Linked DNA regions of Homo sapiens: region 2 is linked to region 1. Evidence: fine-mapped expression QTL. A gene starts in region 1. The other region holds a variant in brackets. All regions are shown on one strand. Distances are from middle to middle. Region 1 holds the start of LNCBRM (lncRNA SMARCA2 (BRM) associated). Region 2 holds the start of LOC124901182 (a long non-coding RNA gene).

Evidence for each region.
Region 2: its variant is fine-mapped to the expression of LNCBRM in subcutaneous fat (TwinsUK, PIP 0.95).

Annotation. Positions count from the first base shown.
Region 1 is chr5:57,564,148-57,576,835 of GRCh38, reverse strand. LNCBRM (lncRNA SMARCA2 (BRM) associated) reads right to left here and starts at 6,494. Exons shown (of 6, transcript NR_120607.1): 1 at 6,454-6,494; 2 at 2,736-2,805.
Region 2 is chr5:57,615,035-57,627,722 of GRCh38, reverse strand. It overlaps LNCBRM (lncRNA SMARCA2 (BRM) associated), which reads right to left. Exons shown (of 6, transcript NR_120607.1): 6 at 10,293-10,998. It overlaps LOC124901182 (a long non-coding RNA gene), which reads left to right and starts at 5,075. Exons shown (of 2, transcript XR_007059133.1): 1 at 5,075-5,154. The variant T/C (reference allele first, on the strand shown) is at 6,322.

The DNA of each region.
Region 1 (12,688 bases):
TTCATTAGCTATTTTTTCATCTACGCCAATTGATAGGAGAAAATTGTTGTAATTGACATTTTCTTGTTAATAAACACTATGTTTTTCATAGTTTTCTTTGCCATTTGTATTTTTACTTTTAGTTAATTATGTGTTTGGGGCTTTTTTCACCTTTTGTAAGAGGTGGTATAGTGGATACTGTGGTGTCTCACCCAGATCTTCAGGACTCGAGCATTCTTCTTGCAGCTGCTGAGAATACTAGCTGCTGATGGTTCACAGCTGCATCCCTCACTGGGAATTTCCTCCCCTCGCAGGGAACTGTCCCACTCATGGTTACTTCCCCTCCAGGGGAGCAGCCCATGACTAATGAGTGGCTAAGTAGTAACATAAAGTCCCCCTGGGCTAAACGTTGGGGTGGGAAACTCTGAAATGGCATCCCAGCTCCCAGTACAATTGGGTAAGACCTCAGGTGCAACCACTTTGTGTATCAGCACTTCGCTCTGCCTAGTCCTGTCGTCCTCGCTTCTTCACAGGTGTATCTCCTGAGAGAGCTTCCAATAAACCTCTCCCTCTCAGAGCCTATGTATTAGTCTGTTCTCACACTGCTATAAAGAACTACCTGGGTAATTTATAAAGAAAAGAGGTTCAATTGACTCTCAGTTCCACAGGCTGTACAGGAAGGATGCCTGGGGAAACTTACAATCAGAGTGGAAGGTGAAGGAGAGGCTGACACATTCAACATGGCAGGAAGGAGGAAAACGGAGAGAAGGGGGAGGTGCTACGTACTTTAAAACAACCAGATCTCGTGAGAACACTATCACGGTAACAGCAAAGGGGAAGTCCGCCCCCGTGATTAAATCACCTCGCACCGGGCCCCTCCTCCAACACCAGGAGTTACAATTCAACACGAGAATTTGGTGGGGACACAGAGCCAAATCATATCAGCCTGTTTCCTGGGGAACCCACAGCAATTGGTACATCTTTTACTTATTGATGTGCAGTGCTAAGAGCTGCACTTATTATCATTAAAAAATGAAAGTCTTAAAACAAATTTAAGAAACTTCAAAATGTTCACTGTTAATCTTCTCACTGTTATCACGAGTATCTTTAATATGACTCGTGTCTAACTAACACTCACGCACAATACACAATGTGCTTTTCAAAGGCTTTTATCTGTGGTCCACTTGATCCTCATCATCTTAACCATGAAGGACATGAGCTCTGGAGCCCAGAGCCTGCCTGCATTCAGACTCAAATAATTGCTTACCAAATTACCTAAACTCTCTGGACTTCTATTGTCTCATTTATCAAGAGGGGATGATATTCGTTCCTAATCCATAAATTAAATGATGGGGTGGTGATTAATTGATTAACGATGATTCCTGCTATGTAATAAATACTTAGAACCTCACAACCATCTGATGAGATGGGCTGTGTTAACTGCCCAAGGCCATTGTACGTGCACAAGGTCACACTAACTCTTACCTAGGCTTCAGTTGACAAGTATAACATAAGAGATTATAAAATAGCTATCAGGAGTACAGAGGGTTGTAGCTTTTGTTCATGTCATGATTCACAGTTATACAACAGTATATAATTTCACTGAAATCTCATACTAACCAAGTTTTCTGCATGTTCTCAAATAAACAATTGTGAATATAATAATTGAAGGCATATTCATAATATATTAAATTTTCTATATATAAACTTGAACTAGATATAAATGGGCTTGGAATTATCTTGAATTATGTTTCAAGGCACCTATGACCCTATACTTAAATTCCTTCTATTATATTTTGGCTAATCACAGACCCTGAATATGTGGTAACATATTGATACTTTCAGTACTTCTGTGTTTCTTCTAGAAAAGAGTCAAATGTAGTGAAATAGTTGGCATTTGCTATAATTCTGTGAAGTAGAAAACTAAGAATAAGGTTTCTGCTACCAAATAGAATTACAGAGAGAACAAACTAAGTCTGAACAATGTATTATTTAAAAATTGTATGTTAAATTTTTTTATGACTAGTGCCTCTTCTAGTGTTCCAAAAATAATTTATACAGTCCATGCTCAGGCATTGCTTTATATCTGAAATTTATGGGAGCAGAATGGTAAATAACAATGTATCAATCTCACTAAATTTCAGCATTACAAATTTACTTGTTTGGAGTTTTAAAAGAACGGTGTTTCCCGCATTTGTTTACTGGGAAATATTCATTCATTTGGAATGCCTCATAGCCTGAGAAACTTTCACTCACTGAACCCCCCAAGCTAGATTTGATCTTGAAAATGCCTATTTATTTCATTTCACCAACAAAGTGAAGCATTTCAAATGCTCATTTAAAGTTAGAATTAATTCATTAAAAGTAAGGTAACTAAATACCACTCATCACTGTGCAAAATTACTCAATCTCTTGAGCAAGTTACTTCCCCTCTCTGTGCGCCATTTTTCTGATCTGTAATATGGAGATATTATTATCTACTTCATGGAGTTGTTGTGAGGATCGAATAACTTAATAAATGTAAAGCTGCCAGAACAGTGCCTGGAACATAGGAAACACTATATATGTGTTAGCCATTATAATTGTATTACCATCATCATCATCACTATAATTAAATAAATCTTCAGTCCATGTACTTTAAAAGGTGAAATCATTTCATTTATTTACAATATATTATGATTCAGTCTTTTCTTCTAATTCACATTGGTTTTTCTCCCCCAATTTACAGGTTAGTAAGGTTTGAATATTATACTTACTTTTTGCCCTGTTATAACATGACAGGCACTCACTATGAGACTTTCAAGGCCAAAGTCTCATAATTTTTTTCTGTACAAGAGAAAAGAAAATATATAATTCTATTTTATTCTTAATTAGAAACATTTGTTCTATTCTTAATTGAAGAATTGTAAGACACCAAAGCTGGAGTGATTTGAAAACAGAATTCATCATACATCTTTCCAAATTCCTAGAGGGCAAACTCATGGCAAAATGCTGGTTATAATGAGACCAAACTTTAGGATAATTACCAGAGCTAATCAGGGGTTATTAGTTTGTGAAAAAAAAAAACCTGTTTTCTAAATACAAAATGCATAGTTAAGTCTTTTAACTTAGTCCATGCAAAGGAAACAAATAAACATAAATGATGCAAAAGTCAACCTAGCTTAAAAATCAATATTCTTCCCTTATTTGGCAATAGCGATTTAAACTTACCAATGTGGAAGAGCAAGGACTCAGATCCTCAGCACAAACTTGTAACTGACTGGTAAAAAAACATTCTAGAAAAGATTGGAGTGGAAAAAGAGCTGGACCATGACAATTAGAAGCAATTTATAACTGTACCAACCTGTGCCCTGGCACAAGGTGTAGGTTCAGATAGCCTCTGAAGCAGTGATTTGCTCTGCGAAGGTTGAAGGAGATCAAAGAACACAGTGTTGGTAGCTGAGACATAAAAGTCATCAGCCCTGCTTCTGTCTGCTGGAACATGGAGCGAAAATGGACCAGATCCAGTGTCCATTTCACAAAATGGTGAAGCCCACCAAAGACACCTTCAGCTTTCCTTTTCATATCTTCTCAACCTCAGTGGTGTATTTACTACTTTCCTGTCAGTGGCCCAGCACATTTTTACTTCTAAAACTCCTCTTCCTCACAAAATGAGGATGGACTCATGTCATCGTTTGTACTTCGAAGTTCGTTCACATCTCACTTATTTATATGTGGAATCTAGAAAGCCAAACTCACTGAAGCAGAGAGTAGAATGGTGGCTACCAGGGCTGGGGGAGTCAAGGAGGTTTGGGGAGATGTTGGTCAAACCATATGAAATTTCAGTTACACAGAAGGAATAAGTTCAGAAGATGTATTGCACATCATGGTGACTTAGTTAATAACCATGAATTATATGCTTGAAAATTGCATAGAGAGTAGATTTTAAGTGTTCTCACCACAAATAACTAAGTATATAACGTAATGAATATTTTAATTATCTTGATTTAGCCATTCTACAATGTAGACATATTTCAAAACATGTTTAACTATTAGTTAATTAATTAAAAATAACAGCCAGCCCATAAAAAACTCCAAACAAGCTTCACTCCATACAACAAAGAGGATGTTTGATTGATTCATTCTGTTCTTTCTTCCTAGCTTTTAGATTTCATAAATCTTTTTGCCAAATAGTTCTAAACCTTTGGAGTTCTTTCCAGTGATTTATCTTTCATAGATGACAGCTTCACTCTGCTTCCATATTTTTAAAAAGAAACACAAGATATAGCAGATGTTTCTCCTTAAAGTCATAAAAATTTCTGAGCCTTGTTCTATTCTCTAATCTTATTTTATTAAAGAAATCATAGAAAATTTTTTTAATTTACAGAGTGAATAGCTACTCAAAATAATTTACCATTAATTTTATATGAACTTGAATCCATCTTAGGTTTATCAAGATTGAGTAGTTAGATAACTTATTAGAGGAGTCCTATAGTACATAGTGTAAATATGGTGCTTTCTAAAAAAGATAATATTCCCAGAAAATGCAGGAAGCTATTTAAATAAAATATCTCCATGATTTTAAAGATGAGACAATGATTCTTTCCTATACAATTTCTTTGCGGAGCAAGATGCTGTATTTGTTCCATATCTTTTAAGAGAAAAGCATTGTGTTGGAACAAAAGAACACAGGGAGACTACTGAAATTAATACATCATGGTCTTTTCTCTTAAAGGGCCTGGGATCTGGTAAGTGAGAAAATATTTGCATACCTTTTCAGGAATATCTCTACTATATAAAGCATGTCATTTCTGCATTATAAACAAACCACAAAACTGGTTCTATCATCTACACAATCATAACCAATATCAGTAATATATACTTCTAGTTACAAAGTACTTTTATACTCACTTTTTTTCTTATGACAAACTTATGAAGTGGAAATTATTAATTCTCATTTACACATGAGGAAATTGAAGGTCAGAGAATCCACAGCAGAGGGCCCATATTCCTTCTGTTTTCCAAATACATGCTATTTATCATGCAGCCACTGCTGGAGGATTGGTCCTTCCATACAGAGCCTTCACTGGGGGTATTCTCTAGTCCTGATCAGAAAAGTTGGGCAGCGTCTGCCCACCACCTGTCAGGACCTGGCTTCAGGTCAGCCAGCATATCGGGGACCACCCCACTGTGGGATGCTGCCAACTGCATCGGTCTGGCAACCACGTTTGTTTACCAGCACTTGTTGGCAAGGCCACGGCTTTTGAAGCTGCCTCTCATTGTGTCTTTAACACTTCTGCTCTGACCACCCAGCCTCAGCAAAGCAAGACCCACGTCTGCCCACATCAATTCATTCTGTAACTGCTTAGGGAAGATTTTGCCTCCTCCCTCCTCTGTGTGCTTCCTGACTCAACAGTGACATCAAAGTCCAGGGGACCCTTTGTGAGAGCCTCAGTGCTAGTGATTCCACGACCAAAATACTGGTAAGAGCATGCAAAACAGAGGTTCTTGGGCATTCATCCCTCACAATTCCCGATGCCACCAAATCCCCACCCCCCGCATACACACACATACGCTCCTTTTGCCTCAATTGGAGACATGGTAATACCATCCATTCGTTTATCCATTTTGAGTAGGCAATTTATAGCTCCGAAGCTCACAATAGTTGTTTTCTAAGACATTTAACAAACACTTATATGGCACCTACTGTTTGCCACACACTGTTCTAGGCACTGAACAAAACAATAACTCATTTCATCCTCATAACCACACATGAATTGCATTGTCTCCATTTCACAGGCAGAAAGACTGATACAGAAAGTACTTTGCCCAAGATCACTTGCTAGGGAAGCCAGGTTTTGAACTCAGAAAGGTAATTCCAGTATCCATCTCTCAACCACTACACTCTGCAACCTTTTTCTTTTTTTTCTTTTTTTTTTTTTGAGACGGAGTCTCCCTCTGTCGCCCAGGCTGGAGTGCAGTGGCGCGAACTCGGCTCACTGCAAGCTCCGCCTCCCGGGTTCAGGCCATTCTCCCGTCTCAGCCTCCTGAGTAACTGGGACTACAGGCGCCCGCCACCACACTCGGCCAATTTTTGTATTTTTAGTAGAGATGGGGTTTCACCTTGTTAGCCAAGATGGTCTCGATCTCCTGACCTCGTGATCCGCCCGCCTCAGCCTCCCAAAGTGCTGGGATTACAGGCGTGAGCCACCGCGCCCGGCCCACTCTGCAACCTTTTGGTTGGGGCACATTAACAGGAAATTACAAAAACGGATGGAGGAAAAATGGATAATGGTGTAGGATGAATGAAGAGACATATGCCATCAGGCTGAGAACATAAAAAAGTGATCTTCATAGATTGATAAGGTACCAGGGCAGATTCTCTACTGACAAATCAAACACTACTTGAAAATTTCAAGCTTCCCAATTTTCTCAAAATGCTTTTACCTCCTCCCTTCCCATACACCGAAAGTAACAAATTTGGAAGCATCTCACCAGTCATTTTCCTTCCAGCTCACAAGGAAGTGCTTATGTATAACATTTTCTGCCTCCTAATTGTCAAGATGCAGAGATTTTACAGATTCACAAACAGAGACAATGCTTTTATAATTTATAAATATTTGTTTTTCAAGCTATAGACACTTCCCTTGAGCTCTTAAAAAAGAAAATCTCAGTAGTTTTACATCTCAAATATCTATGAAATGGTTATTTAGGTGAGGTTTGGGGAGGTTGGGTGTGGGGGTTGTGTTTTATTTTTGCTTAATTTGGTATTCAAATCATGTGGTTATGCATTGAAAATTAGCTTGATCCACACTCATCTGTGGGCCTTTTGTGTGACAGCATTCCACACATCTCCCTGTTTTCCTAATTCTAGTTTATTTTATGATGACTTGGAGAAAATGGCAATGTTATCGCTGAGGAATTTATGTTATAATATTGGTCTTTCTCTGGCCTGAAAAAGACTAATTGTTCCCCATTCTGTGTTGCCACAGCTCCCTCCCTCACAAAGCTATTATTGAACTGTATTTAACTATCTGGGTGGGCTTCTGGTAATAATTAGATTGCCATCTCCATTAAATCCCAGGGAGAGCAGACAGTGAGGGTAGCAACAGCAAGACTTGTAGTAACATTTAACCATCAAAAAAGAGGATGACTTGAAGGCCTCTTTTGTGTTCTCCCTCTGTTCTTCTGGCTTTAAAGCTATAAACATCTGATGATAAAGCATCCTTTAAAAATTCTGAATAATTTATTGGATGCTTGCTTACAGAGGATCCTATTATTTTTTGACTCTTCATTTCTACAATTAGGCAGTGGCTTTGGAAACACATTAAAGACTCCATCAAATAATAATTGTAATCCAAATCCCAATAAGAACCAGATTTTGAATATTGAGCCCTGAACCTCAGCTTTTGATAAAAAGAAGAGAAGAAAGAGAGAGGGTGGGGAGCAGCAGTGAGAAAGAGAATAGTATGAAAGTAGCATGGATCACTGGAAAAAGAATGTCTTGCTTTCAGAAATGGATAGTAATTCTACCTCTCTAAGTGCTTTATTGGGATCCAAGAAAAGTGAAAACATCCTTGAGCTCTTGCCTCCTATATCCAAAACTCAGATTAAATGCATCAGTTAGAACTAGGCTGGCTGCATTATTTTAAAAAAAAAAGAGAGAGAGAATAACAACAGTTAGTTAAATACATGGTAGAAACCTGAGGCTGGCAGTTGAGGGCTGAGATGATGAATCCACAGGCAGAGACCCAGGCTTCCACTCTGTGGCCCTGCTCCATTCTTAGTTTGCCAACTCATGGTTTAAGATGGCTCCTTGAGCACCAGCCATCATGTCTACATGCTGAAAAACTGAGAAAAGAAAGGAATAAAGAAATAATGTGCTCTCTCCATTGAAAGACACTTTGGAAGTCACAGCACACCTATGTCCAAATTGCAATTCTTTGTCTAAACTCAGTCATGTAGCCAAATCTTCATTATTTAAGAGAAGGTAGTCTTTTGCCAGGTAGCAAAGTGCCCGGCATAGGAGAAAGCAGAGAATGCATTTGGGAAGGCAATTGGCAATCTCTGCCCTAAAGAAATACAGTATTCCCTTCCAGGATATTTAAATGTGTCAATGAGATACTAATGTACTTTCTCCAAGCGTGGCATTCAGATGGCACTGCATAGTAGTGAACTGTTTTCTCCCTGCAATGTAGCCTTGCCCATCCTGTACCATTGTTGATATTGCCCACCAGCATTAAAAATGTAGAGAGTTTGAAAACTGACCCCCAAATCTGACAATGTCTTTCAGGTTTTTAGTAGGGCTGTCTACATTGTCTGCATTATTTAGAAGTGTGAAATTAGAAGACACTTTCTGGCAAAAAGCTTTCCAAAACATCAAAATGTAATAATAAATACTAGAAGTAACTGGTAATGAAAACTAACAAAAGACAGAATTCACTTCTGAAACTGTTAGAGTGATGATTGGGGAGGGAATGGAGAGTTGGAATCATTCTGACAAGAGAGAGCTGTAAGGACAAAAAGCACTTAGAGGCCATATGGTATATACCAGTACCACCAGCACTATGCTAACCCTTTCATAGACTGTCTCGTTTAGTTATCACAAGACCCCTATGAGATAGATACCCTTTTTTTATTATTTACAAATAAGGAAATTGAGGTTCGGAAAAATTTAGAGGCTTGTTCGAGGTCAGACATGTAGTAAATGGCAGAAATAAAATGAAAAATGACTTAGAAAGGATTCCCCCCCAAAAAAAAATACTAAATACTAAAAAATACTTAAAAAAATACTAAATACTAATACATAGTAAAATGGCCAAGAGGAAAAAGCTCTTGTACAGAGACAGGATGCCTTGTGAGAAGCAGGGACCTACACTGAAGAGGCACAGCCAGGCTGAGGTGACCTAGCTGGAAGGGAGCCAAGAGTCACACCTGGGACTTGCACTCTGTCCTTCTGCCAGTCTCCTGCAGATGCCCCCATTGGCTTAACCCAACCAGAAGTCCAAGGGCAAGGGTGTTCTTGATATAGTTAATATAGTCTACACAGGTCAGCCTCCTAGAGAAGAAAGCAGGGTTGAAAAGGGAGGAATGAATCTAGAGGAGCAAACAAAATACACAGCACAGCAGGTTTATCACCACTGTCCTCTCCTCACTGCATTCCAGGGCATCGATGGGCAAGGGATAAAGCTTTGCTCGTTTTACCATCAAAACTTCCCCCTGCCACACCAATTCCCCACTCACACCTGCAGAGAACAGTCAGGATACAGGATGTGATTTGCTGCCCTCTTACTGCCAGCAGGTGAGAAGTTAGAACTTTGGAAACTGCATTTTAAGGTTTCCAAAACCTGATCTGAACTATGTAAGGGAGAGACTATCCTATTTTAACTTATCTTGGGGGGTGGAAATTACAGAGCTCCTCCACATGATTTCTTCCATGGTTTGAAGACAATCACAATCAAGACCTTTCTCCTGTACAAATCATCTATTCACCAAAGAATCTTCTACTTAAGTCTCTTGATTCTCTTAAGCTAAAGAAAACAGCAAGCCAGCAACATTCTTCAAGAGACTGTCTTCTGTTTTGAAGACATGATTCTACCATGCTCTTTCACCCTCAGTGAGAAGGTCGCTCATCCATCCTCTATGAGTGATTCGTTTCCCCTTTTTCTGCTTTTTGCACGCTAACCATGGCCTTATTTTACCCTCCTGAAATGCCTGCTTTTTCTAGTCTTTCCTAGCCTAACACTTACTTCCCACCTACTCACTGCTTCAAGAAAGCCAGCTAAGACTAATACATTCCCCAAGGGAGTTTTGGTTTACTTAAATTTCCATAGCAACTATGCTCGTCAGCAAAACACTGCGATCCTCAGTATCTATTAGTACTGCCTGAAATTCCCTTGTACTGTTTTGTAGAAAGTTAATACAGAGAGACTGGGCCCTCTCTTTTTCATGAGTATGTTCTCTTTTGTGGTATGAACTATGATTGTTAACCCATCCCCTATTGGTGGACACTTAGATTCCTTCACGTTTTATCATTGTAAACAATCTATACTGAACATAATTATAAACATTTCTCAATGCTCATCCAGGAGTATTCTGTAGGACAGATATTCAGGATATTTGATTAGTCAAAGGGTTTACACATTGTTATTTTAATAAATACTACAAAATTCCTTTTTAAAAGCCATTTGCCTTCCTACCTAGTGTATGAGAGTATGCATTCCTTCACACCCCTTCCCAACCTGCACTGACACAATGGATACTACTAATAATTAAATGTTTTTCCAATGTGATAGGCAAAAAAAATAGACTCTACATATTTCAATTCAGATTTCTATGATTACCAGTAGGATTAAACATCTTTTCATTTATTTTTAGAGCATTTGTTTTTCTCCATTAGCCTTTTCCCATTTTCTTATTAGAATGCCTTTTTCCCATTGACTTGTAGATATTCTCCATAAAATACAGATTAAAGCCTTTATTTGTGGTATATATTACAACTATTTTCTTCTCGTCTTATGCTTGGCATTCAAGAATGGTTTCACTGTGGATATAAATTTTTAATTTGTATGTGGTAAGGTATATAAATCTTATTTATTCTCCTCATGATTATAAAAATATGAAAACTTATAAAAGCATAACATCCCCTCCTGCCTTTCCCTCTCAGCTTTTAGGACTTTGCTTTGACCACACTGCTATGAACTTTCTCACCCATTTGTGTTGAGCATTTGATGTATTCTCTTAATCTTAAAGCTCAGTTCTTCAGCTTTGGAGATTTTTCTTGAAGTATTTAAAAATATCCTCTTCTCTACTTTCTTTATTCATACTTTCTGAAATATCTTGAACTCTTGACTCAGTTCTCTATATTTCTTTTATTTTCTCTTCAATCTATCCTTTGGTCTTCTTGCTATGTACTTGCAAGGAAATTTTTTCAATTTTATCTTCTAAATCTTCTACTGTGTTTGAAATTTGTTTTCATATTTTTAATTTCCAAAAGACTTTATTTTTGTCTTTTAAATGTCTTACGTTTATAGCTTCCTGTCTTTTATTTCATAAATGAAATATCTTCTTTTTCCAAGGACATTAATGAAAATAGTGCGTTCTGTTTGGTTTCTTTTAAGTTTCCATTTTCCTGCATAGTCTCTATTTTTTTCAAGTTGCTTTTTTTAGTTTGTTTATTTGTTTGTTTCCTGGTCTCTGGCTTTCATGTTAGAGGCTTTCCTTAAATGTCTAGTGATTCTTATCATTCATTTACAATTAAGAGTGAGGGGCTCCAAAGCTGGGTGTGTGTTCTGTGCATGGAGCTTCACAGTGAGGGGAACTCTGGTTGTACATCCTGCTGGGGAAGGCTCAGTGTCAATCTGTTTTAGGTCTTCTCTAGGCTGCTCGTGCTATGCTAGGAGGGCTTAATTCTAGCTAGGAATTGTGGCAGCAAATGGGGAAATCTGTGAAGATTGCTGGTCTTCACAGTCAGGCAGTAGACTTGCACTTTACCACTTACTTTAATGTGGTACCCCACCCTCAAATATGCCTGTGTGCCCCAGTCCAGACCCTCTGTTTATATACTTCAGACAATAAATTTTCAGCCACTTTCAGGAGGGGATGAGACAAGCTGCAGCTACATGGATTGGATTAGGATTTAAAAGCCTACTACTTATAAATAGGGTTTCAACCCACCACACAGGGCTAGGCCCTACCTCCACCTCCCACTTCCACGGGCACCTCATGCTGCCAATTCCTGTGATGTGGGGATTCCATAGTATATATCGGTTTGCTTCTTCACTTTCCCCAAGGCCAATTTAAAATTCAGCTCTCGGTGTTTTGCTAGGTCAGCAGCCCTTCATTCTTCCACTTTCCAGCTCCCAGAACACTGTTGCTGTTTTCTCCTTTCCAAGTCTCTTTACTTTGTGAATGATAGCCTTAAAAAATCTTTTTCCTGTAATTATAACAAACATTTGAAATGGAGTGGATTCACTATGTTTGATTTGCCAACTTTAACTAGAAGATTCTCAGTATTAAAATTTAACATATAGATTTAAATACGTTTGCCTATCAATCTCCAATGCTAATAAGTATCTGTATCCCATCTTCGCACACACAATTACATACACACATAAAGAAAAAGACAAGAATATTAGCACATTTTAAAATCCCTTCTGCACTTCCCTTTTTCTCCTATGTTAAAATCATCTGGAATCAAATTCTAGGTTTATCATTGTCTTAGACTGTCTGTGTTGCTGTAAAGGAATATGTGAGACTGGGTAATTTATAAAGAAAAGAGGCTTACTTGGTTCACAGGTCTTCAAGCTGTACAAGAAGTATGGTGTCAGCACCTACTTCTGGTGAGAGTCTCAAGAAGATTCCACTCATAGCAGAAGGCAAAGATGAGCATGCATCGCATGGAGAAGAAAAGAGGAAAAAAGAACAAAAGAGAGAGAAGGAAAAAGAGGAGGAGGTGAGGGCTGTTTTTCCCAACCATTTTCTTTAGCTAGTAGTATTTTCTTTAACTAGTTGTTCCACCATTCATCATTGTCTCTTTCATTCACTTAACAAATATCTGCTTATTTCCTCCATTTCCAGAATTGTTCTAGGACCATGTGCCCTACCCTCATGGAGCTCAAGTGTTGGGAGAAACGGGCAATAAACAAGTAAGCATCTAACTAAACATCGTTATTTTACATAGCTGTATTTGCTTTATGAAATAAACCAAAGTAAGGAGAGATGAAGGAAG
Region 2 (12,688 bases), 51 kb before region 1:
GCTGATTAATCTCAATTTCATATTTTCAGCTCAGATCTCTTTCCTGAACTGAAAGTATATGGCTACACTTTCCAGCTGGGCACCCCACTTGTATAGATGCCTCAGATCCACATATCTAGGACAACACTCAAGCCAGAGGCATTTTCAAATTTAAGTCATAATAGCAAAGAAATTGGGGTGGAGCTGTGCTAAGATCATAGTGGTAACCATGCAGGAGGAGATAAGTGAGATTTTATAAACCCAATGTCCATGAACATCAGAGTATATTCATGACCTGCCTTCATAATTTCATGGGTTCATAATGCATGGGTGATTGGCCTGATAATAAAGACCAGATATGAAATGGACAAGAATCATGTTTAGAAAGGTTGAAGTTATCCTTGAGTGAAAAGCTTTCCATTTCATTTATTTAAAGAAAAAAAAAATCAGGAAATGGACCTTAAAAAATTATACATAAAAACAAATGGTACATTTTAACATATTTGTTATCAAACACATCATATTCCCACTTATGGCTCCAGGTAGTTAATAACTTTGCATGTAGTGATGCCAAGTCCCATTCAAGTCCCATTCAAGTCAGACCACCCATTCTCACCCAAAGACAGTGTAGTCTTAGACCTCTGCTCTGACAACATGTATTTCTTGCCAAGTGGGCCCTGTATTCACGTTCTAGTATATCTTGGCCTTGGCACCTGGATTGGTGGGAGCTATAATGAGAAGCAGTGTGTCCTGACATTAATATACCCTGAAGCAGTCTGTTCCAAATGAGGCAGCTCTGCAAGGCCCAGTGACCATCACAGAAAGTGCTGACACAGGATTTTCTTTAAAATTGGCCCAAGCAGTAATATAAGTCATTCCCAGAGGAGTTGGCTGTGTGGTTTACATTGGCTTCCATAGCATTCCTGTGATACCCAGGTTCTATTTCATCAGCAGTGGAGCTGTGGTGGCAAAATTCTAACAGATTGTCTTCTGAAAAAAAGCCTCTATTTTACTGCTTAAGAGAAATGCTTTGAAAAATTACAATGCATTTTTCACCAATCTCCTTTGAGTTCTATATTTTCACAACTTAGTACAAGTAATGCATAGCCAATATTAAATGCTTATGATGCCTTTTGTTGTTTCAGAATGCTACAAAGCTGCGCTGTAAACAGTTTGGAAACTATTATTGCAACTACTGCCTTATGTTAGGCAGAGAAGTTAAATGACTTGACAAGTTTACCCAGCCAGTTAGTAGAAGAGCTAGAATTAGCTGTCTGTCTTCTGTCTTCCAGTTCCTCTGATATTTTTAGTAGACTTTGCATATGGAATATTTAGTGTGACTGAATGTCCAGGTAGAGGTATCCAGGACTGGACTTTGGAAAGGAGGGAGGGTTTAGAGTTACCCAATCGAGATTTACATTGAGTGAAGAGTGGAATCCACGTTGGCAGGTCAGATTGCCAAAGAGAGAAAGATAAGAGTTATGAAGAATAGTAATCATATCATAATTCCAAATATACAACAAATAATGATTGAGCCACTGAAAAAAATTAATTCGATAACATAAGCTGAGGTGAAGCAGTACAGCATTTTAGAGTATAAAAGTGATTCTATCGGTTTCATATTTACTCAGCTCATTCAATCACCATCTATGTGGTGTCTACTAGCACCAAGTTATGTGCTAAGGATATAAAGATGAATAGAAACTTCTGATGTCAAGATAATCACCACCCACTGGGAAAGCAAATAAACAATAAATTATTAGGCCATAATAAAACTATATTTAAAGTGTTATAAGAGCACAGAAGATAGTACTCACCTCTGCCTAAGGTAAAGTTCTCATAAGCACAGGATTCCAAAGCAGAACAAAGCTGACAAAATTTTTAATGCAGCATGTAGCAGTAATTTGGTGAGCACCTCATCAAATGTTGTACAACAGATTAATTATTCCGAGCGGACTGGAATAATTCTCTTAAAGTGGCATAACAGTAGCATTAATGTCCTTCCTTTTTTCACTTCGTCACATTGTTTCGCTCTGCCTCTGTGCAGAAATGAAATTAGGGTCACCATGCCTTTGAAATATAGCCTCTGCTCTCACTAATGCTAGAGCTGTCAAAATGAGGAATAAGAACTATCACTCCCATGTCTGATTCCTAAATAACGATATTTTCTTTAAGACAGGAAAAAAACAGTTACACGTATTCCTAATCCATAGTCTAAAATACTATCTAGCATAAAGCTATATCAAATAAATAAAAAGATGTGTTTGAAGTTTCATCTAACATCTAGTCAACTGGCTTTTGTGAAGAGTATCTGGTTATCACCCTTCCTTCTAGCTACACCATACTTTATGCTACTATGTCCTTTTGGCTCTGTATCCAGGAAGAATACAGAGACCAGAAACAATAGGGTTCAATAAGAGGAGGAGTATAACCTAAGGGTCCATAGTGCAATGTTTGGAAATGTACCCTTGCCCTCTGGAACTTTAACATGAACCCTATCTCCATTCCATTTGTGCTCCTCTCTAAGTGCCTTCTCACCCTTAATGTCAGCAATCCTCAAACAACCCTGAGAAGCTGGTATTATTAGACTCACTTGTAGATATATAAACTAAGGTCTAATCTAATGTTAGACAGCAAATTAGTAACAAAACCAGGTCTGAAAGTCAGGAGTTTCTTTCTTACTAGCTCAGAAATCTGTCCTCTATATCAGCAGTTGGCAAACTTTGGCTATAGAAAGCCAGGTGAAAAATATTTTAGGCTTTGTGGGCCAAACCGTCTCTGTCTAGGACTGACAGATTTAGCAAAGACAAATGCAACACACCTAGTTACATTTGAACTTCAAATAAGCAACAAATTTTTTTTAGTGTACGTCCCATGCAATATTTTTGTTTATCTGAAATTCAAATTTAACTAGATTTCTTGTATTCTATCCGGCAACCCTATCTCTGTCACAATCACTCAACTCTGCCATTGTGCACAAAAGCAGCCACAGACAATACATAAATGAGCAAGTTTGACTGTATGCAAATAAAATGTTGACAAAAACAGACAGCAGGGCTTATTTGGCTGGTGGGGGGTCATGGTTTGCTAACATCTACTCCATGTCATTGGCTTTGTCTTTACTAAGAGTTGACCTGCATAAAGGAATAAAACATCAAACTTATGTTATCATTGTATTTGATTTATAGATCATTTAACAAGTATAAACTTTCAATGCCATATCTTTCACTGAAGGTACAACTCACTCAATTTATAATTATAATGGTAAAACACTTCAGAGTTCCTTGAGTGTCCTCATTTTGCACATTCTAGAATTGACACTCAGAGGCATGGGAAGACTTACTCAAGGTCACACACAACTTAGTTGCAAAAAAAAGTCCCCTGTTTGGAGATAGCCAGTCACTTAAGTGTTAAAGAATATTACTGTCACTGGATACTGCTTAGGGGATGGGTGTACCAAAATCTCAGAAATCACCATTAAATAACTCATTCATGTAACCAAACACGACCTGTTCCCCGAAAACCTACGGAAATTAAAAAAAGAAAGAAAGAAAAACCCCACTGAGATCTCTGTGACTATAATATGTTGCCTAGGCTTTATAGAACCATTATTCCTCATCCCCCAAAATTTCAAGCATAAAAAATAGGCACGTAAAAAATTAGGAGGTACGTTGTTCAGTTTCCTCCTCTCCGAAGTCAATTTTGGGTGTGCTGCCCTTCTGCTCAGTGTCCTCATGGCCTCTGCCCCCACTGCCTCCACTGTGAACGCCCACTCCCAGGGAGGATGCTTCACAGTGGTGCATAGGAGGTGTTGGAGTCCAAATATGGATAAAGTGTCCAATCACAAAATATTTTTTCAGCTAAGATCACAACTAAGGAGTCATTCTTTTGAGCAATTAAATTGGAATTTAACCTATTTCATCACTGTAAGAGCACATCAGACACAGAAGGCTGATTAAAGAATCAGAACATAAACAGCATCAGCTAGAGAAAATAGGTGTAATAAACAGCCACTATTCCACTATTTGGGGGAGCAACAATAAAGACTGCTCATAGACAGACTTTTCAAGGAAGTTTGTAGAAACAGGTTCCAAGATTTCTGGAAATAGTAATAGTGCCCCGAAACAACAAAGTCACTTCCCAGGACAAGCGTGTGTCAACAGCAGTGTGGGACACACAAAAGAAGACCAGAGGAATCTGGGGAAAGACCAATGAGAAGCAGAATAAAAGCAACTCTCACAGGTAATAGCAAGTCGTGAGTTTATTAACAAGGAGAAATTTGAGATTTTTATACAGAGACGCTGTTGTAAACCACAGTTAGTGCTATATCTGTATACCTGAGTTCTCTCAAGAGTAATGCATATGTGTATATGTTAATATATTCTCATTTAAGACATGTTAAGTCATTCTCAACTAACCCTTTCGATGCCTTCAGATGTCCCAAGTTAAAAGAGCTCATCCCGCTGCTGCTTTATAGAAAGGTGAACTGTGTGTGGATCCTACGTAACAATTACAGCCAAAATTATTGCTGCTCAGAAATGACAAAATCAGCAGTACCTTTACAAAATTTACAAACTTGATTAACATACAGAACTATATCTTTCCTTCAATGTATTTGATATTATAAACAACATGGCACTATAAATATGCTTAATATATTTTATGGATTAGAAGTGTCATTTTGCATTTGATTTTAATTTCCCTTTTTTCTTCCTGTGCAATAGCCTCATTTCATTTTGTCTTCCCAGCATCTAAGCACTCTTCATATTCAGAGAGAATTCCAAGATGGATGGCAGGCACTTTCCACTGCTGATGCCAAAGGGGAACTAACACTCTCTCCCCAACCCTTTAAAGGGGCGATTTCAGCCCACCCAAACAGATACTCCGAAGATTTTTAGTGTTAAGAATGAGACGCAAAGGTGCACGACCTGTCTTCCAGTGAATTCCACAGAGATGAGAGCCCAGTGCTGTGGAGCAAGTATGGGCAATAGACTCCAAAGGTAAGCTGAAGAGAGCCCAGCAACAGCGGTGTCAACAAAAGAGATTCTAACATACAGTATTCTATCTCAAGTTTTTGTCTTCTGTGGTTCAGGTCCAGCTTGGATTCTCCAAACTCCTCATCGATTCTTTAAGCCACCTTAAATCCTTCAATTAATATTGATTCTGCTTAATCAGGTATAGATAGATCCCATTTTTGTAACCCTAAACCTCAACTGTTAAGCCTGAGATCAAATAGTGGTGAGCAACATATAGCTTTAAGAAAAAAAAAAAGCTTCAAGTAATTAGTATGCGCACACACACACACACTTATGACAGATGATTATTACTCAATATTTCACCATTATAGTACTAACAGAATTGAGGTTAAAAAGAGCAGTTAATGCCTGATTCAAGGGTAGAACTCCTAGCAGGAATGACCACACTTTTTACAGGTAAATCCTCCCCTCAGATTTGCCACTCATTATTGAAACTATAATCCTTCTAGCAATTAATAAGAATTTGTTAATGTTTAACACTGTGTTAGGTATTCCATAAGATATGTATGACTGCAAAACAACTTGTAATCCAAATGGGAAAACAAGAAAAACACAAACCAAGTAATGATAAGTTGTAAAATAAGATGACCTATACTCAAGTTTTAATACAGACTATAGCTTTCAAAGAAGAGTTGTTTGAGAAGTCTTCATGGGGAAAGTGAGTCTAAGCTAGACTTTACGAAGATGTGTAGGCTTTAGGAAGGTGGAGAAAAAAGCAGAGATTAAGTTAAGAATCTATGGCAGGATTAGAAGGGGATCAGTAACAAAGGCATTATTTTCATTCTCTTTCGGTTGAACATCACTTCTGCCTCTTGTCCTGGCCCGTACAAGTGAGAGATGGCCATATGAAACATGAGAAAGGAGGTGGCATGCTTTCCTGGCTCTCTCCTCTCCTTTCAATCTCATACCCTGCCCTACTCACGTGTCTTCATGCCTACTTCTACCCAAGTCTTTCCCTCTAGGGGAGTGCCATACCATCTGTTTTTCTTTTTCCTTTTGCTTTTTTTCCCCCCAGAAAATCTGTATGAATATATTGTTGGTCAGTTGTCACATCAGACTTCAATGATCTGGCTCCTGCCCTTCTTTCTAAACTTGAGAGAGTTCTGTGACAGACATAAATCCTCATTGCATCTATTGGGCAGGTTTATATCTGGACCATTCATTTGTGGTGATGTTGTCTGAGGAAACCTACCTTTGTGTAAGGGTCTGTTATACAAGTTTCCACCTTTTGTGGATCCAGTATTGGCTTTCTATGACCCTTGTAGCCTTTTATAACTCAAGCTCTAGGTTATAAAAGTCTGGCTGA[T/C]AGCCCAGGGGAAATGCCAGTTTTAGGTTTTGCCAACTATCTCTGTTCGAGTTCATTCATTTCTTACAGTCTCAACTATATATATTTTGAACTTTTTTTTTTGTAGTTTTAAATGTTCTATACCGAAAGAATTTCTCAGTACATCTATAGCCATTTGGACAGGGGAAAGGCATATCTAAATACTTCCCTTTTTATTCTTTTTAATGTGTTTTCACTTTAAAGTATTTCAAACATAGAAAAATATATATGGAAAATATAACAGATCTGTGTGCCCAATGTTCAGATTTACTAGGTATAAATATTTTGTCACAATTCCTTCAGACTTTTTATACACACACAAATACATACTCCGCTCTCTCCTTCCTTCAGTCCTAGAGGTAACCATCATCTTGGGGTTAGTGTGTATAATTCCATGCTTGTTTTGGTGCCTTACCTAACATATATGCAATATATAATATTGCTGAGGTATCAAGTTTAAAACTTAATATATTGTGAGCACACAACTGATATTTTCAATCAATAGTATATTTTTGAGATTTGTCCAATTTAACACATGTAGATCTAGTACAGTCATTTAAATTGCTCTATTGCATTTTATTATATAACTAAATCATAATGTATGTATTTGTTTATGGATAGATATGGAGGCCAATCATACTATTATGAATGGCATTGCAATGAACATCCTCGTTCAACTCTTCTAGTGGACATGTCTGAGCCAGGCTCAGAGACACCTATATATATGAGGGGAATTTCCAGATGTGATGTGGAGTGTACATCTTGAACTTTACTGACAATTGCCAAATTGCATTCCTCAGTAGTTCTTGATCATTACACTCCTGTCCACAATGTGTAAGAGTTCCACTTTGCCGTAGTTTTCACCTACACATAGAGTCATCAGATGTTTGGGTTTTTTCCAATTCCATCAGTATAAAATAAATCTCATTGCTTTAATTTGCTTTTATGTTTACTAGTGAGGTCGCTCTTCAAATGTTAATTGGCTATTTCAGTTTATTCCTCTGTGAACTGCCCGTCTTGGGGATTTTCTTATTTTTCACTCGAGTTGACTATGTTTTCTACAATGACTTTAAAGTTTCTTTTCACATTCTGAAAACCAACTCTTAGTTATATGCTCTGCACATGTATTCTCCCATCTGAGGCTTGCATTTTGGCTTTGCAGTGTCTGTTTACTTGTGACGTCTACTCTCATTTAGAAGTTTATACAAATAGTCAAATTTATTAGTGTTTTCTTTTAGTTTGTTGTGACATCTTTAAAAAATCTATCCCTGTTCTGGTATCATCCAGAGATGCTTCAATATTTCTTCTAAAGTTTCACAGTTTGTGTTTCACACTTAGGTCTTTAAACCACCTGAAATTTGTTTTTGTGTGTGAGATGAGATGGAGACCTAATTGTATCCTTTTCCATCACTTTGGATAACTGTTTCAGCACTCTTGATTGAATAGTCCTTTTCTCCTCTGAAATGTAATGTCCTCCATTATATACCAAGTTTCCACATATATATGGGAATGTTTCTATGAGTGCTTCTGTTTTTTGTTTTTTTTTTGTTTTTGATTGGTTAGCTTGTTTGGTTATTTGTTCATTAGATCTTTTTTTCCCCTTTCCTGCACTAATACCATACAAGCTTCTTTGATGATGAAAGCACTATAAGAAGTCAATATAAGGCCCCACTTGTATTTTCTAATTTGTCTGTGCTATTCTCAGACTTTATACATTTCCCGTTTCCACGTTTCTGCATGTGCTCTTCCTTCTGCTTAGAATCCCTTTTCTATCATTCTCCATAATTCCAAATTTGACTCATTCTCTCAGGACAAAGGCCAGCTTCTCCAAAAAGCCTCCCCTGATTGACCTTAAGTTGAAGTGAGTCCTCTCTTTTCTAAACTACCCTGTAACTTAATTTGTATTTTGCTTTCACTTTTTTGTTTTTCAACTCTAGTATATAGCTCTTGGAGAGCAAGATTCATGTTTAACTAATCATCAACTCCTTGAAATTGCTACAGTGCCTCTATACAAAAGCTACTCTATAAATATTGATTTATGCTTCAATACTAAAAGTTTTCTGTAATTAAATTTTTATCATATAGTAATGCAGCAAAATCGTCAGGGTACTTTAACATTTGTAAACCCTTTTCTATTTGCATGTAGTGGGCATTTTCGCCTAACTCACCTTTCATTTCCTCTTTCTCCTTTTTAACTATATTTGGTTCAAGTATGTAACTAACCCCTAAACAGCTTGTGATGCCAAGGAAGCTGGCTCCATTCGCAGCTTCAAGAGAGAGACCTCAAATATTCCAAACCAACCAATGCACAGCTTTCTCTGATAACTGCTACTGGTCTAGGAGTGGGCATAAGACCAAGTTGACTCAATCAGACAGAACAGAAAGACTGTAATTTCATAGTGGAGAATGGTTTATCATAGTTTCATTCTCTTTTCCTCTCTCCCCCCTACACACTGCACATGAACAATGAAACATATAGCAATAGCAATAGTTATCTATTGCTGTATAACAAATCAGCCCAAAACTCAGCGGGCTGAAAAGAGCAATTATTTATCATCTCTTAGAGTGTCTGTGAGTCAAGAATTCAGCAGAGCATAGGAGGGATGCCTTGCCTCTTCTCTACAATATCTGAGACCTCAACTGGGAGACTCCAAGGCTGGGAGTTGGACTTAGTAGAAAGCTTATTCACTCTGGTGGTTGATGCTGGCTATCAACTAAAACTTACTGAAGCTGTTGGTTTGAACACCTACATGTAGCCTCTCCACGCAGCCTGGGTTTTCCCCAGGTGGCTGGGTTCCAAAGGCCAGCATCCCCCCAAAAAGTCATCTTACATCATTGATGAGACAGGCCAAAAACCAAGTGGACTCAGAAAAGCAGAACAGAATGATGGTGTTAACGTGGTCTTGATCACACAGTTAACCTGTGAATCAACCAACATTAATGGCTATCCGTACTGCTGCACTTTCTATATGGGACAATACATTTAAAATAATTTGAGTTGGACTTTCTATTACCTGTGTTCAAAACCATCTTAATTAATGTACTGCATTTCAACTATCAATAACAGGCTAATAGAAGAAACTATTAGGAATGGGGGACCATAAATCATACCACCACATATTCTGCAAGAAAGCAGCTGCATCCTGCATTCAAATGTCTGAGGGCTATCGATTCTGTATATGCCATCTCGTCTTTTTTTCATCTTATTTTTAGTGATATATACCTATACAGTACAGTTAAATTTCCACTGCAATAAGCAAAATTCTAGTTAAAAGTTCTTATGATGCTATCAGGAGCTTCATATCCAGAAACAATTAAGTCCTATTGTGCCCTGAAGCCTGGTAACTTTGTAATTTTGTTGATGATATTCCTTCTGGATACTGAATCTATGCATTATTCAGTTAAACTGATTAGAGAAAAAGCACTACATTGTCCCTATTTTGATTATCTATACTACTATTTTAATTTTCAATCCAGGTCATTATTAAGTAGCTAGAAACAAATTGTAATGCTAAGAATTTGTATCATTATTTGCAGTGTTCATGTATTTTCAAGGATGCAGAATTTGTTCAATCTGGTTTCATCCTAAAATTTTATATATCTAGCTTTAGAACTAAGTAATAATTTGGGGGGGGGAATGAGGTGTTTTCTATAAGTTGAAATGAGCACAGAGCTAAAATATTAATATTTTTGTTACATGATGCTCATATACATTTGAAATGGCTTTTCTTTTTAAAAGGCAATTTGTAGATGATTGGGACATTATATTCACAGATGATGCCACTCGATCCTTTTTTGAGTTTTTCAAGTTGTTTTACTGGAGACCTGTGAATCAGCATGCAGTGTATTGAAGATTATTCAAATTCAGAAACCAAATCTCTTGAGTTTAAAGAAACAAATGACAAAGCAAGCTGAAAATTCTTAAAATGACTCAAAGTGTCAGGATGAAAATCTTTTTCCTTCTCTCCATTTTTTATTATATCATAATAATTAATAACATGTTGTATTTTCCCTTTTTAAAACAGAGAAAATACACAATGCCAAATAATCAGGCTTATCTCTAATGAGCAACCAAATACAAAAACATAAGAAGCCAAATCAATCCCCTGGAAGAAGATGGAGCAGGAGAACTATCAAGAAACACCTTCAATTTCTTAGGACTCAATATAGGTGAACTGTAGGTGAAATGCCATTGAAATGCTCTGAATAAACCTGCAAAATGAACTGTACAACTAATCTCATCTGGGAAATATGAAACCTAGTGGTCCCAGTCATCTAGACATTGGGGTATATGATTCAAAAATAAATAAAAAGAAATGAGTAGATAATAAACATCCTTGAAATAAAAAAGAATGGAGTTTCAAAAGAAGCGGTTACAGAAGAAAAATGTTTTTTGGCAGCATGTTCTTCACAAAACAATCCAGAAAGAACAAAAGCTCCAATTATGAATTGAGGTTTGTTTTTTCTGCAGCAGCCTTTTTTCTCTCTTCAAAGCAGACCCTCTACCCGCACTTGTGTGGCTGTTGCTGAAGATGTTTTTATTGCATAGTGCAATAAATAGTTATATAATATGTTTATTTTTCCATTTCAGTGACTTCTCTCCTCTTTTTTTCTTGAAAATGTCTTTAAGTCATTTTGCTCTCCTTCTTTCTTTTTTCTCTGGAAAGAAAAAATATAACCAGAAAAAAAAAACATAAACATCCTGAATACAGTGCTTAATGCCTGGTAGAAATAAGGCAGAACAAAACAAAATATGTGACTGAAAAGTCAGACAACCTGACTGAGGGAATGCTAGTCTACTGAGCAATGCTATGAAGGAAAATAAAAAAAACAGCAGCCTTTGTGTTGATTGTTAAGAAAAGAGCTCCCAAAATAATAACTATGAATTTCTGGATAATTTTTAGAGTTGTCATCTGTTCTTTCTCTACTGATTGACATATCCACAAGCAGAATCTTTTGTTTTATAATTCTTTGTTTTCTCTCATATATTTTTCATGATGAACAGTTAAATAGCAAAAGAAAGGAGAAACAAAAGGTCTGTCACTAACAAGATGGTATTTTATACTGTAAAATCATTTTGAATTAGACTTAACAGCAAATCCTTAGGCTGACAAATTGTACTCATCTTAGGTACCTACCTTCTTCCCACTCTGTTACAGCCAGGGCCCCTTTTCTCCCACACATATATTTTATCTTCTGTTCTTTCTTGCCTGCAGGTCTTGGCTTATTCTATAGCCCAATCCAGAATGCTACTTCTCAAATCCCTGTTGAGATCTACCCTACAATGTTCCTTCGAATCTCAAATCTAAGCTTCTCTGCCTTAAGCAGGCTTCACCTACTAATTCTACTTCATAATGTAGATTCCTTTTCTTCTAAACAATATTATGTCTATGGCATACTAGACACAGTATCTGGACTAAAAAAATAGCTTTTATTATTATAACTTTGAATTTCTTCAGATGTTACTTTGGCAAATTTACTATCCATCCTAGAATATCATAAAGGTCACCTTCAAGTTAAATTCAAATTTCTCCTTATTTTTACAGTTCTTATCACTCTCTCCTAAGTAACACTTAATGAATTGAGTTATATATTTGGAGCTTCTTATAAATTTATTAAATCAATTCTATCAAGAAGATAGCCAAATAGTCAATTTATGTCCCAGTTCTATACTATTATAGGATATGTAACAATTACAAAAATGTGTCCAGTTGTGTTTACAGCTAAAGACTACATGGAACATAAGAAAGAAGTGAAATCAAATTTTCGAAGGATTTCTACCTACCCTACATCTCTGCAGTTGAATCAGTTGGATGTTTATTGCAGCTGCCTTCCTGTAGTGAATGATCTTTATAATTTGATTTTCCATCTAAATGAAAGAGCATCTCTACCTTCCATTGAATACAATTGTTTGCTTAAAGATCTAATGATTTCAGAAACAGATAGCTTTCATTCCTTTAATTCTCTTTGAATCTCAAAACCTTAAATAAGTTTTCTAAACTTGATTGTATAGTAGACAAGGTTATTTGGGGACAAATTAAGAAACATAGTCAGAGGCCCTTGTCTCTTTAAAATGCTTATAAAATATCTCCCTCCCAAACTCTCTTTTCCTGGAGAAAGGTGAACAACCTCTTGACTGGCTTCCTATTATTTTGATGTTGATAAAGAAACCATGCCTTCCCAGGCATAACAAAATAGGTCTGACAAATTTCTAGACTCATCAGCAAATGGCAAGGATGATAAATGAGATTAGAGTTGTCTGTGAAGCTGTTCTATCTTGGGTGTCTTGCTCTAAGTTTGGAAATGGTATGGTTCGTTTATTAACAAAGTGATTACTAGAAGCCTGAAA